Linked DNA regions of Homo sapiens: region 2 is linked to region 1. Evidence: fine-mapped expression QTL. A gene starts in region 1. The other region holds a variant in brackets. All regions are shown on one strand. Distances are from middle to middle.

Evidence for each region.
Region 2: its variant is fine-mapped to the expression of CELSR2 in sun-exposed skin (GTEx, PIP above 0.99). The same link has a PIP of 0.9 or more in esophagus mucosa.

What each region holds. Positions count from the first base shown.
Region 1 is chr1:109,246,454-109,251,814 of GRCh38, reverse strand. It overlaps CELSR2 (cadherin EGF LAG seven-pass G-type receptor 2), which reads right to left and starts at 2,276. Exons shown (of 34, transcript NM_001408.3): 1 at 1-2,276. The coding sequence starts at 1,735. RefSeq lists silencers at 629-819, 1,918-2,017, 2,178-2,237 and an enhancer at 2,239-2,959.
Region 2 is chr1:109,271,948-109,277,308 of GRCh38, reverse strand. It overlaps CELSR2 (cadherin EGF LAG seven-pass G-type receptor 2), which reads right to left. Exons shown (of 34, transcript NM_001408.3): 29 at 4,904-5,031; 30 at 4,581-4,669; 31 at 4,282-4,476; 32 at 3,973-4,143; 33 at 3,639-3,873; 34 at 1,558-3,287. The coding sequence ends at 3,260. Among named protein-coding and RNA genes, the nearest start is that of PSRC1, 8.5 kb to the left of the region's middle. RefSeq lists cis regulatory regions at 2,341, 2,326-2,345 and an enhancer at 1,026-3,057. The variant A/GA (reference allele first, on the strand shown) is at 3,068.

The DNA of each region.
Region 1 (5,361 bases):
CAAAGCTGTAGAAATCAACTTCCTCCCGGTCCAGTTCAGCAGCCACAGAGATCCAGCCTGTGCCATTGTTGATGGTGAAGGGGAAGTCATGTCCCACCCCAGCAAGGCGGTATTCCAGGCGGGCATTGTCACCAGCATCAGCGTCGATAGCCTGGACATGGAGAACCAGGTAGCCTAAGGGGACACTCTCCAGGACAGTAGCCTGGAAAGGGGTGCTGACGAAGATGGGGGCATTGTCGTTGATATCCAGGACCTGTACTGTCACCAAGCCAGAGACATTAGAGAGTGGGGGACGGCCACCATCCTGTGCTCGCACCCGTAGGGTGTACTCCTTGGTCGTCTCATAGTCAAGAGGGCTCACCACATCCAGAGCTCCAGTCTGGGCATCCAGATAAAACTGTCCCCGAGCATTGCCACTCATGATGCTATAGTGCACCACGGCATTGCTCCCCTTGTCTCGATCCGAGGCTGTGACTCGGAGTACTGGGGCCCCTGGAGTCACATCCTCCCTCACCTGGACCACATAGCGCTTCTCACTAAACTGGGGGGCATTATCATTGTCATCCTCCACAGAAAGGAAAACAGCGGCTGTGGTACTCCGAGGACCCGGGTCCCGACCCTGGTCACTTGCCTCTACCGTCAGCTGGTAGGATTCCACCTCTTCCCGATCCACAGGGCCACGGGTTCGGATCACCCCAGAGCGAGGGTCGATCTCAAAGACTTCAGAGGGGCTGCCCCCAGACCCCTCCAGCAGGCGGTACAGAATATTGGCATTGGGAGGGGCATCACCATCCGTGGCCCTGACAGTGAGCACCTCATAGCCAACCTCCAGGTTCTCCCTGAGGCTCTCCTTGTACTCCTGCTGCTCGAACACAGGGTCATGGTCATTGGTGTCAGTAACCAAGATGGTGAGTGTAGCCAGGGCACTTCGTCGGGGCATGCCGTGGTCCTGCGCCGTGACCCTGAAGACGTGGGTGCTCTTGGTCTCACGATCCAGCTCCTCGGCTGTGGTTACTGCACCAGTGACTGGGTCCAGGGAGAAGAACTGGTTGGAGCGGCTATCAAAGAGGGCATCCATGGTGTACTCCAGTCGACCTGCCTCACCCTCGTCCGGGTCGATGGCCCTCAGGGATGCAACAGGGGTGCCTGCTGGCTGGTTCTCCGGCACTGTGGCCTGGTAGCTGGGGGGCTGGAACTGGGGGGCTGTATTTACATTCCTTTTCCGACGCCCACCCAGGGACTCTTCTGGTGACCTTTCCCCTGCCCTGAGCCCGGGGGCCTGTGCCAGCTTGCAGGACTGGCATCTGAGCCGTGGAGCCTTTAAGCACGGGTGCTCCTCGGGCAGTGTGAGCTTGCCCTGTGGGGAAAGGTGGCCTCCAATGCCCAGGAGGCGACAGCTCCAGGGGCAGCCTTCAGGAGCTGGTGGTAGGGGAATATGGGCCTCGGATTCTGGACACCAAACCCTCAGGCCATCGTGGTGGGGTACCAGGTGGCCAGTCAGCTCAGTGCCCGCATCCCTGCAGCGGCTGGTGTAGAGCCAGAGGTTCGACGCTGAGGATGGACAGAGCCAGCCCATGGGGGCGCAGGCCCCCGAAGAGCCTCGTCCCCTGGACCCCAAGGAACGACAGGGCCCCACTTGGTCTCCCAATAGTGGCGGCGGCAGCAGCAGCAGCAACAGCAGCAGCAGCGGCGGCGGCGGCGTTGGGAGGGGGACGCCGGTGGCCGGGCTCCGCATCTCTCCCAGCTCCCGGCCGGCGGCCGGGTCAACGGCGGCGGCGGCTCCTCCTCCGGCTCCTGCCGGCCCCGCCGCGCCTCATGCCCGGGCCAGGGCGCCAGTCCCCGGGGGCCTCCCGTGCGCCCCGCGGGGCCTGCGTCTGGATGGCTCGGCGGGACCCCGCGCTGCACCCTCCGACGAGCCCGGGCTCCCACTGCCCCCTGAGCCAGACCCGCTCCCGGGTCACCCTGAGCACCGCGGGCTGCCGCCGCGCCTCCACCTGCGCTCCGGGCACTCACCACCTGCGCCCGGGGGCCCCGCGGCGCCCCTGGCCTTGCCGGGCCCCGGGTTCCGGAGCCGGGGTGCCCCCTCCGCCCCTATGGGATCGCCCACCTGCGCCCGCGTAGCCGTGCGCCCCGACCCCGGCCCGGCCCCGGCGGCCCCCGACGGTCCCGCGCCGCCCGCTCGCGCCCCGCGTCCCCGCCGCGGCTGCTGCCTGTCGCCGCGGCCCCGGGCCCAGCCCCGCGCTCCCTCGCCTCCCCGGCGGGCGGGCGAGCTCTGCAGAGTCGCGGCGGCGGCTCATTACCATAGACCTGCTCGCGCCGCGGCCGCCTTAAAGCGGCAACGCCGGCCGCGCTGGAGGAGGTGGGCCCCACCCAGAGCACTCCTCCGCCCAAAGCGCCAGGATTCCCTCCAGCAGGACCCTCCATCCCAATTTCCCCAGGCCGGCCTCGCCAGATGCCCGGTGCGAATTAGCGATCGGAAGCCACACAGCCGATGATAATCATGGTGGAAGTACCCTAAGTATGCCTAGAGGTTTCCAAAACATTTTAAGGGCTCTCAGAGGCCAAGTTTCCAGTTCATTCCAGTCATAAAAGCCCTCGTTGCTGTCCCCTCCCATAGGTCAGACAGAGTTAAAAGGGCCCTGAGCAACACAACAAAGCCTCCAAAATCCCAGAGAAGCACCCACAATGAGTCACCGGGCCCACTCGCTCCCTACCGTCCCCTCCACCCCACCAGCGAGGCTGTTGTCTGACCAGCATGCCCCTTGGGGTCGGGCTGTTGGAAGAATGACCCCAGCCTCATGTTGGACACCACTTGGGCTTTTCCAGGGAAGTAAATTAGAAGGGTCAGAGTGGGTGGAAGCCAGGTGGTGCAAACACACTGTCACCAGATTCGGAGGCCGGCTGCGGTGGAGCCTAGCTTTAACACAGGCTTCCTGGATTCTAGACAAGGGGCTTACACTGCCCCCTGAGGTCCTGTCTAGAGAGGCGGCCTCTCATCCCCTCCTGCCTCCCTGTCCATGTCCTGCGGCTACCCCCTCCTTCCGCCACAGTTTTGTGACCAGCGAGGAGGCCTACCTGGTACCCGGGCTCCTGACCCTCTCCAAGGCAGCTTCATTTGAGAGGGTGTGCAGGATTCCAGGGGTTCTCCAAGAGGACCAGACATGAAGCTGGACCACACGGAGAGCCAGGCAGGAGCCGTGCAGGCGACCCAGAAAAGGCTTCCCTACATCCTGGAGCAGCCAGGGGCCCAGTCAGGTAGTCCCTGGGGGGATGCCCTGGCCTGGGGGGATGCCTGGGCCTGGGTCCCAGCCTCCAACACCACAGCTATGTGACCTTGCTCAAATTCTGTGCCTCAATGTCCCTTTTTGTAAAATGAGGGGATTGAATAAGGTGAATGGTTCTCAAATGTTTATTTAGCAGTAGAATTCTTTTCTTCAAAAGAAATCTGAAGTGGAAGGCCAGAATATAGAACAGATGAGTAGTGCTGCTGGGTTGAAGTGAGGGGGTCAGGGCCTTGCCCCTCTCCACCACTCCCCCAACCAAGAAATCCCTGGGCTGCTCTGTGCAACTTGAGGGTCTGGAGGAACCCATCTGAAAAGCACTGGATCAGGTGCTCCCTTCTACCACTGCCCCCGGTCACAGTGGTGCCACTCTCACTGGGTCACAGCAGAGGATCCCCCAGCCCCAGGCCCAAGGAGTGTCTGTGTGACCACACAGTGAGGCCAAGGATGAGAAATCAGCTTTTCTCTTTTCCCCTGGGGAAACAGGAAAGGAGATGGGCCTTGGGTACAGCAAGAAAGATTAGGGTTAGACTGTGCTCCTGGCAGGATGGATAGAAGTAGGAGGAGGACCCATGGCTCAAGGAAATGCCCTCCCCTTTGACCAAACAGGAGCTTTCTTCCTCTGAGCAAGGCCAAGGGCAGCTCTGGAGATGGAGGCGTGGGTTACACGCCTCCGCAGGGCTCTGCCTCTCTAGACTTCCTCAGACTCTGGAGTTTGGAAGGATCTAGGGGCTGCGTGGGCATTTTGTTCTTCACCTAATAGCCATGTGGTGCAGAGAATGCTTGGAAATTATACCATCTGTTAATTATCCTTTGAATTGGGGTTGGGTAATGAGACTCTCATTTCTGGTGAAGGCCCAAGCCAACCCGTGGAGAAGCTGCAACTCTCCATTCATCTCGCTCCCTTTGTTGCTAAAATAAGCTTTCTGGGTGGGAGGAAAGAGTAGCCCTGGCTCTGGATCACGGAAGGTGGTTCTGGGGCCTTGCACCTTGAGGCAGGGGTTGCCAGGGAAGGCATGAGCTCAGAAGCCCCTTCCAGGTGGGTGGCCTTTCCACCCAAAGGCAGATAGGTTGGGGGATCCAAGGAACCCTTTCCTTCATCCCCAAGCACATTTGGCAAATAGTCCTTAATCCTCCCCAGTCCTCCCTCCGGGGGCACAGGACAGAGCTCTCTCCCCATCACTTCCTCAGATACTTCCAACTCCCAAAAGCAGGAGGGAAATTTCCAAGTTTCATATGCATCACTGAGAGTCTCAAATGAGGGAGGGGTTGCCCTGGTGGAGGCCTCCCTGATCCCCAGGGAAGGGCTGCCTGCTTCATGGAGCTTTCCAGTTGTAAGGAACCTATGGACCTCCCTCCTGTGTGTAAGGGACATTTAGGCCTCCCTTCTGCATAGCTTTTAGGTGCTATCAAGGGGCAGCAAGGGCTTGGGGTCTGTTAAAAGAGAATTTATTGTTCTTCTAGTCCAAACCTCCCACTTCACAGTGGAGGCTCTGGGAAGGAAGGAAACCTGCTTGGCTAGCCTTGCGGCTGTCCTTTAGCTCTGGTGGGATTTCCTTACTCAGGTTGCTTCCTGAGGACCCCCTGGATAAGGCATGGCCCTGGCTTTCAACACAACAGGGTCGCATGGGTGAAGTGCTCCAGAAGCAACTGAGAGAAAAGGCTAAAGGAATTCAGAGGACAGAGCAGTGAGGGTGGAGGAAATCCCAGAGGGCCTCTAGAGGAGACGGGACTTGGGCTGCATCTTCAAGAATCAGGAACAGCATTCCTGGAAGAGGAATTCATCAGTTAAGTCACTTAATCTACACATTAAGTGTCTTCTCCATGATTATACAGCTAGTAATGGAAGAGCTAGGATTTGGACCCCGGCAATCTGACCCCAGAGCCCACTCTCTTAAGCAGTACACTATGAATGAATGAAAGGAATGAATGAAATGCAAGCATCAGCTTGGCTGGAGCTGAAGATTGGGGTGGCTCTGCTGTGGCCTAGCACGCTGGTGAGGAAGAACAAGGTGAGCTCTGCCTTGGGCAGATCCCTGTGGCCTGAAATTCTGGAACCAATGGCCTGCTGGGAAGGAGG
Region 2 (5,361 bases), 25 kb before region 1:
TGTTAACTCACTTAATCCTCATAAAAGCTCAATTAGGTGGATGCTTTTATCATCATCCTCATTTTGTGGGCAGAGAAACTTAAGGCTCAGAAAGATTAAGTCATTCAGTCTGGTTCTAGGGTTTGTGTCCTTTTTTTTTTTTTTTTGAGACAAGGTCTGGCTCTATTACCCAGGCTGGAGTGCAGTGGTGCGATCTTGGCTCACTGCAGCCTCTACTTCCTGGGTTTGAGCCATCCTCCCACCTCAGCCTCCCTAGTAGCTGGGACTACAGGCATGCACCACCACAGCTGGCTTTTTTGTATTTTTTGTAGATATGGGTTTCACCATGTTGGCCAGGCTGGTCTCTTAACTCCTGGCCTCAAGTGATCCACATGCCTTGGCCTCCCAAAGTATTGGGATTACAGGCGTGAACCACTGCCCAGCTAGGGTTTGTGTTCTTAATCATCACCCTATATTGTCCCCAGGTTAACTCCCTTTCTAGTTTTTTTGTTTGTTTTGAGATGGAGCCTCGCTCTGTCACCCAGGCTGGAGTGCAGTGGCACGATCTCAGCTCACTGCAATCTCCACCTCCCAGGTTCAAGTGATTCTCCTGTCTCAGCCCCTGGAGTAGCTGCGATTACAGGCATGTACCACCGCACCCAGCTAATTTTTTTGTATTTTTAGTAGAGACAGAGTTTCACCATGTTGCCCAGGCTAGTCTCAAACTCCTGATCTCAGGTGATCTGTCCACCTCGGCCTCCCAAAGTGCTGGGATTACAGGCATGAGCCACCGCACCCAGCTGCCTTTCTAGTTTATTGAATGGAACTTCGACAAACACAAAACTTGGAACTAGGCCGGATGCGGTAGCTCATATCTGTGACCCCAGTTTGGGAGGCCAAGGCGGGAGGATCACTTGAGCCTAGGAATTCAAGACCAGCCTGATCAACATAGTGAGACCCCGCCTCTATTAAATTTAAAAAGCATATATACTTTTAAATATATATCATATATATACACAAAAACAAAACTTAGGCTGAGAAGTAATGTTGCAAAGCACACACTTGGCTTCAGTATGAGTAGCTGCTTCATTTTCCAATGGGAAAAAAAAAACAAAAAACAACCCTGAGCAGTATAGTTAGGAGGCACTGAGTCACTGACCACCATTCAATTCCAACCAGCCTCTCAATGCAGCCCTCCCTGCTTCTTGAATTCTGCCCCAGAAAACTCATCCCTGTCTAGGACTCAGCCCTGAGGGGCTGGGCTGGAAGGCTGCCTGCCCCGTGCAGCCTCTCCCACCGTAGAAGTCCTTTCCGTCCTGGTGAAAAGGACACCTTCCTGCCCGCCCACCATGTCTTCCTTGGAAATGCCAGGAAATGGGCTCTGTGCTGATCCAGCTATTTGGGAGCAGTGTCATGGACATGGGCAGAGGGACAGGCTTATCAGCCAGTGGTGTCTGAGTCTCCCGACCTCCCGGTGGGGCCTTCTGGGCCCTGCCGGCTCTTCTGTTTTCCAGAGACCAGACCTTCCTCCCTGTGGGAGGACAGGGTACCACACAGAAGCGGACAGTGACAGTGCTGTACCCGCACAGAACTAGTTTATTCAGTAGTATGGGGCATGAAAAAACAACAACAACAAAACGCTACCCTATTTACAGCAACAACCAAACTGTACAATCTGATGGTTAGTACCAAGTTAGCATCCAGCATCTTTGTATTTTTTTTAAATCAAGTCATCAGTAGTAAAAACCAGTTAAATTTTTAACCCTTTGCAGGAATTGCTGAGGGGAGAAGACGGGGGAGAATCCACGGCAGAAAAGCCAGAGGCTGGCCTCACAAATGAGAAACAGGAGCCTTTCTTTCCTGCCCACAGCCTCTTTTTCTAGCCACCTGCTCCAGAAGGAAAGTCAGTGACAAGTCTGGAATACATGCTTGGAGTAAATGGTGACTCAGATGAAAAGCAGTCGGCAAAACTGAGGAGAGGGGAGGAGAGGTGGGGAGATGATGGCCTGGGGCAAGGGGAAGGGCGTCAAGCCCCCAAGCCAGGGCTGCTGGGAACACCCAGCCTGTGATGGCCATATCAGACCCCCGGGACTGGACACGAACCCATCCCAACACAAAAAGCAAATAAATAAAACAAATATATTAACTCTCTCTTCACAGGGAGCTGGGGTGGAGTCGGGGAGAAAGAGGAACAGGACCTGGTCCTTTGAAGAAGAGAGCCAATTCCAAGAAGGGGTTAAAAATAGAACATGTCTCAGAGGCCACAGCAGGTTAGACAAAGTAGCATTTGTCTGATTTTGGGGGGTGGGGTGGGTGAGTGGACACCAGAACCCAGACTTGAAACCTGTGCTTGATTGAGCACCCTCAGGGCAGCCGAGCCAGCACTGTGTTTACTCTTCCTCCCCCACCCACATCACAGCAAAGAAGCGCAACTTAACACATGACTGGCCTGCCCGGGGCGCGGGGCGGGCACGAAAAATGAAGCACTTTTGGGTCAGCAACTGAGCAAACACCTGGGCTGCCGCGCACGGCCAGAGTCCAGGAAAAGGAGAGGGGCTGGGGCTGCCCGACCCCCGCCTGGGGGCACAGGCTCCCCTGAAAATGTGTTCATGCAGCATTTGGGGGTCCAGGGGCGCTGAGTCCTTCTGCCCCCTCACCGGACAGGGCTTTTCCAGTTCCTGGGAGAGGCAGTGCGGGCAGGACGAGGCACACCCTTTGCCCTGGCCCCTCACCGTTCTGAGGCCTGCCCGGGTGCAGCCTGAAGGGTGTGAAGCCCTGGCTGCGTGTGGCTTTGTCCTTTCCTTTTGGTGATGGCGTATGAGGGGCAGGCCCCCCAGGAGTCCCTCTCCTCCCAGAGGCACAGCAGATGGGAAACTGAGGAGAGGCTGGGAAGCATCCTGGGAGGTCCTATCCTCTTTGGGAAGGGAAAGGGGAGTCAATTTCCAGCGTATAAAAAAAATGAATCCCTGAAGTCATGAAGAGTGGAGATCCTTTTTTAAATTCTTTTTTTCCTCTTTTCTGAAAAACTTTGTCTTGGAGATGTTGGCCCCAGGGGTCCAAAGTGCAGTGAGGGGAATGGTGGGGGGGG[A/GA]GTTGGCACTAGATGGCCTTAGGTGGGGTGAGTACCCCTCCCGGCAAGGCCCAGGCTCCTCAGATGGACGTTTCGTCGCTGCTGCGGGCAGGCGATGGGGAGCGGGGCAGGATAAAGCACAAGACAGGAGCAGGGCATGAGTGCGGCTGGGGAAGGGAAGGGAGCCTCGGGCGTAGGAACCACGGCCCAGGGTTAATGCAGGAAGTTAAAGAAGAGAAATCTGGAGAGGCAGGAAAGGAAAGTGGCAGAAAAGGCAGACAGAGGGTTAGTTGAAACAGAGGAGAGAGTGAAAGCTTTCACCAGACGAAGGAAACAGGAAAGCACCCCCAGCTCCCCATCCTCCCGCACTCTGCCCTAGGCTGGGCTGCGCCGCGTAGAGCCTAGGAGGGGTGGCCCTCCCCGCAAGGCACCATGGTTTGTGGGCACGGCATAGTAAGGGAGCTGGGCCAGTTCTGCCCATTTGTCCTCCAAATGCCATCCAGAGTCACCTGGGGAGGCCCGGAGGCAGCTCTGGGCCCAGGTGAGGCCTCCGAGGGGCTGCACCCCGTCCCGCCCACCCGGCCACACTCACTCGGAGCCTGACGAGTCCTCATCCACCGTGCCTGCCTTGATGCTCATGGCGATGGGCATGACCCCGTTCAGCTGCTCCTGGAGGCTCTGCCGGGGCGGTGGGCGGGGAGGGGGGCCTCCCCGGCTGCCCTCACTAGCGGAGGAGCCCCGGGAAGACCCTGTGCATTGCTCCAGGGGGAGCCGCAGGAGGCTGCTCTTCTCGCTGATGGTGGGCAGACACTTCTTCTTAAGGATGCCTGTGGGCCGGGGCGGGGCTGTGAGGTGCGGCCACAGGAGAATGTGAGGTATGAGGCTGCTGACTAGGGGAGCTCGGCAGCTGGGGGTGCCCCACTCACCTTTGTGAGGCTGGGCAGAAGAGCCTGGAAGGGGGCCTAGGGACCCCTCTCGAGACAGGGCATCTCCATTCTCCCGCAGCCGCTCCTCAGGGGCCCCGTTGCCACTACTCTCTTTTGCTGTGGTCCCAAAGTCTCCTGGCCAGGGGGCCTTGCCAGGCCCTGGGCCCCCATCTGGTGGGGAAAGGAAGTAGATGAGGCCCACAGAGGGCAGATAGCCAGGAGGCCACCACCCCAGTCCTGCTTCCCAAGAACCCCAGGCCCACTGTCCTCCCACTGGCCCCAAAGGCCACAGCCCCAGTGCTGGCCCACCCTTGGGAGTACTGTGCAGGGGCAGTCTCTCTGCTCCAGGCCCCAGCAGGCTATCCCAGCCCTGCTCTCCAGGGAAGGCGGCCTCCTCTTCCTCCTCCTCTTCTTCCTCCTCACTGTCTGATGAGTGGGTAGAGGCATAGGAGCCACTCTGGTCGTCTTCTAAGGACAGGTCACTGTCGGAGTCCGTGTCAGGATCTAGGAGGCCAGGGAGAGATCACAGCCAGCCCAGCCACCTCCACCCACCTTCAGTAAAAGCCAGCCAACTGCCCTGCTGGGTGGCCAGAGCGTTCTGTCCTCACCATGCTGCTGGTCTTGACCTTCCAGGAACAGGCTGCCTGGATCCCCCAGGCCAGGGGGCCCTTGGCCAGGGTTCAGTGCGGACTCCTCCCTAGGAAGATGAGACCATGCTGGAGGGGTCAGCCTGGCCCCTTGCCCAGGGTCCCAGTCTCTCCTCTCCCCTGGGATCCTGGTTCCTGCTGTGGGTCCCTTACAGCTTCTAATCCAAGCTGGCCCCCACGTCAGCCACAGTGTGTGCTCCTCAACTCCCAACAGCTGGCTGGCCTGGGTCCAGCATGCGTGGGCCCCTCCTCCCCTCCTCCACCCTCCCATCTCCGGGATTCACCTCAGCAAGAAGGGGATGTAGCTGGGCTGACTCTTGCCCGAGCGACTGGTGCTGTGCAGAGAGCCGGCCGAGTCTCCGTAGGGCTGGTACAGCCGCCCATCTGCGTAGGGGCTGGGGCAGTTGTAGGACTAGGCAGGGAACAGAGAGGTCAGTAAGTGGGGAGTGGGATGGCTGGCCCCAGGCTGGGAAGAAGGAGGGTGGAGGGAACTTGCCCTAAGTTCCACCTTCCACATGCTCAGGTCTGAAAGAGAGGGCCCTGCTTCTCCGCTGTCCCCATATTGAGGCCTGGCAGTGGTCACAGCTCTGCCACAGCTGTGCTACCCCTGCATGCCCCCAGGGATCCTGGACTCACTATATAATGGCTCTGTAAAAGATGAGACCAGAAATTGTCTCCTGAGAGCACCTTGGGAGACAGAAAATTTACTAAAATTCATGAGAGATTCTCAGGTGCAAGGCAC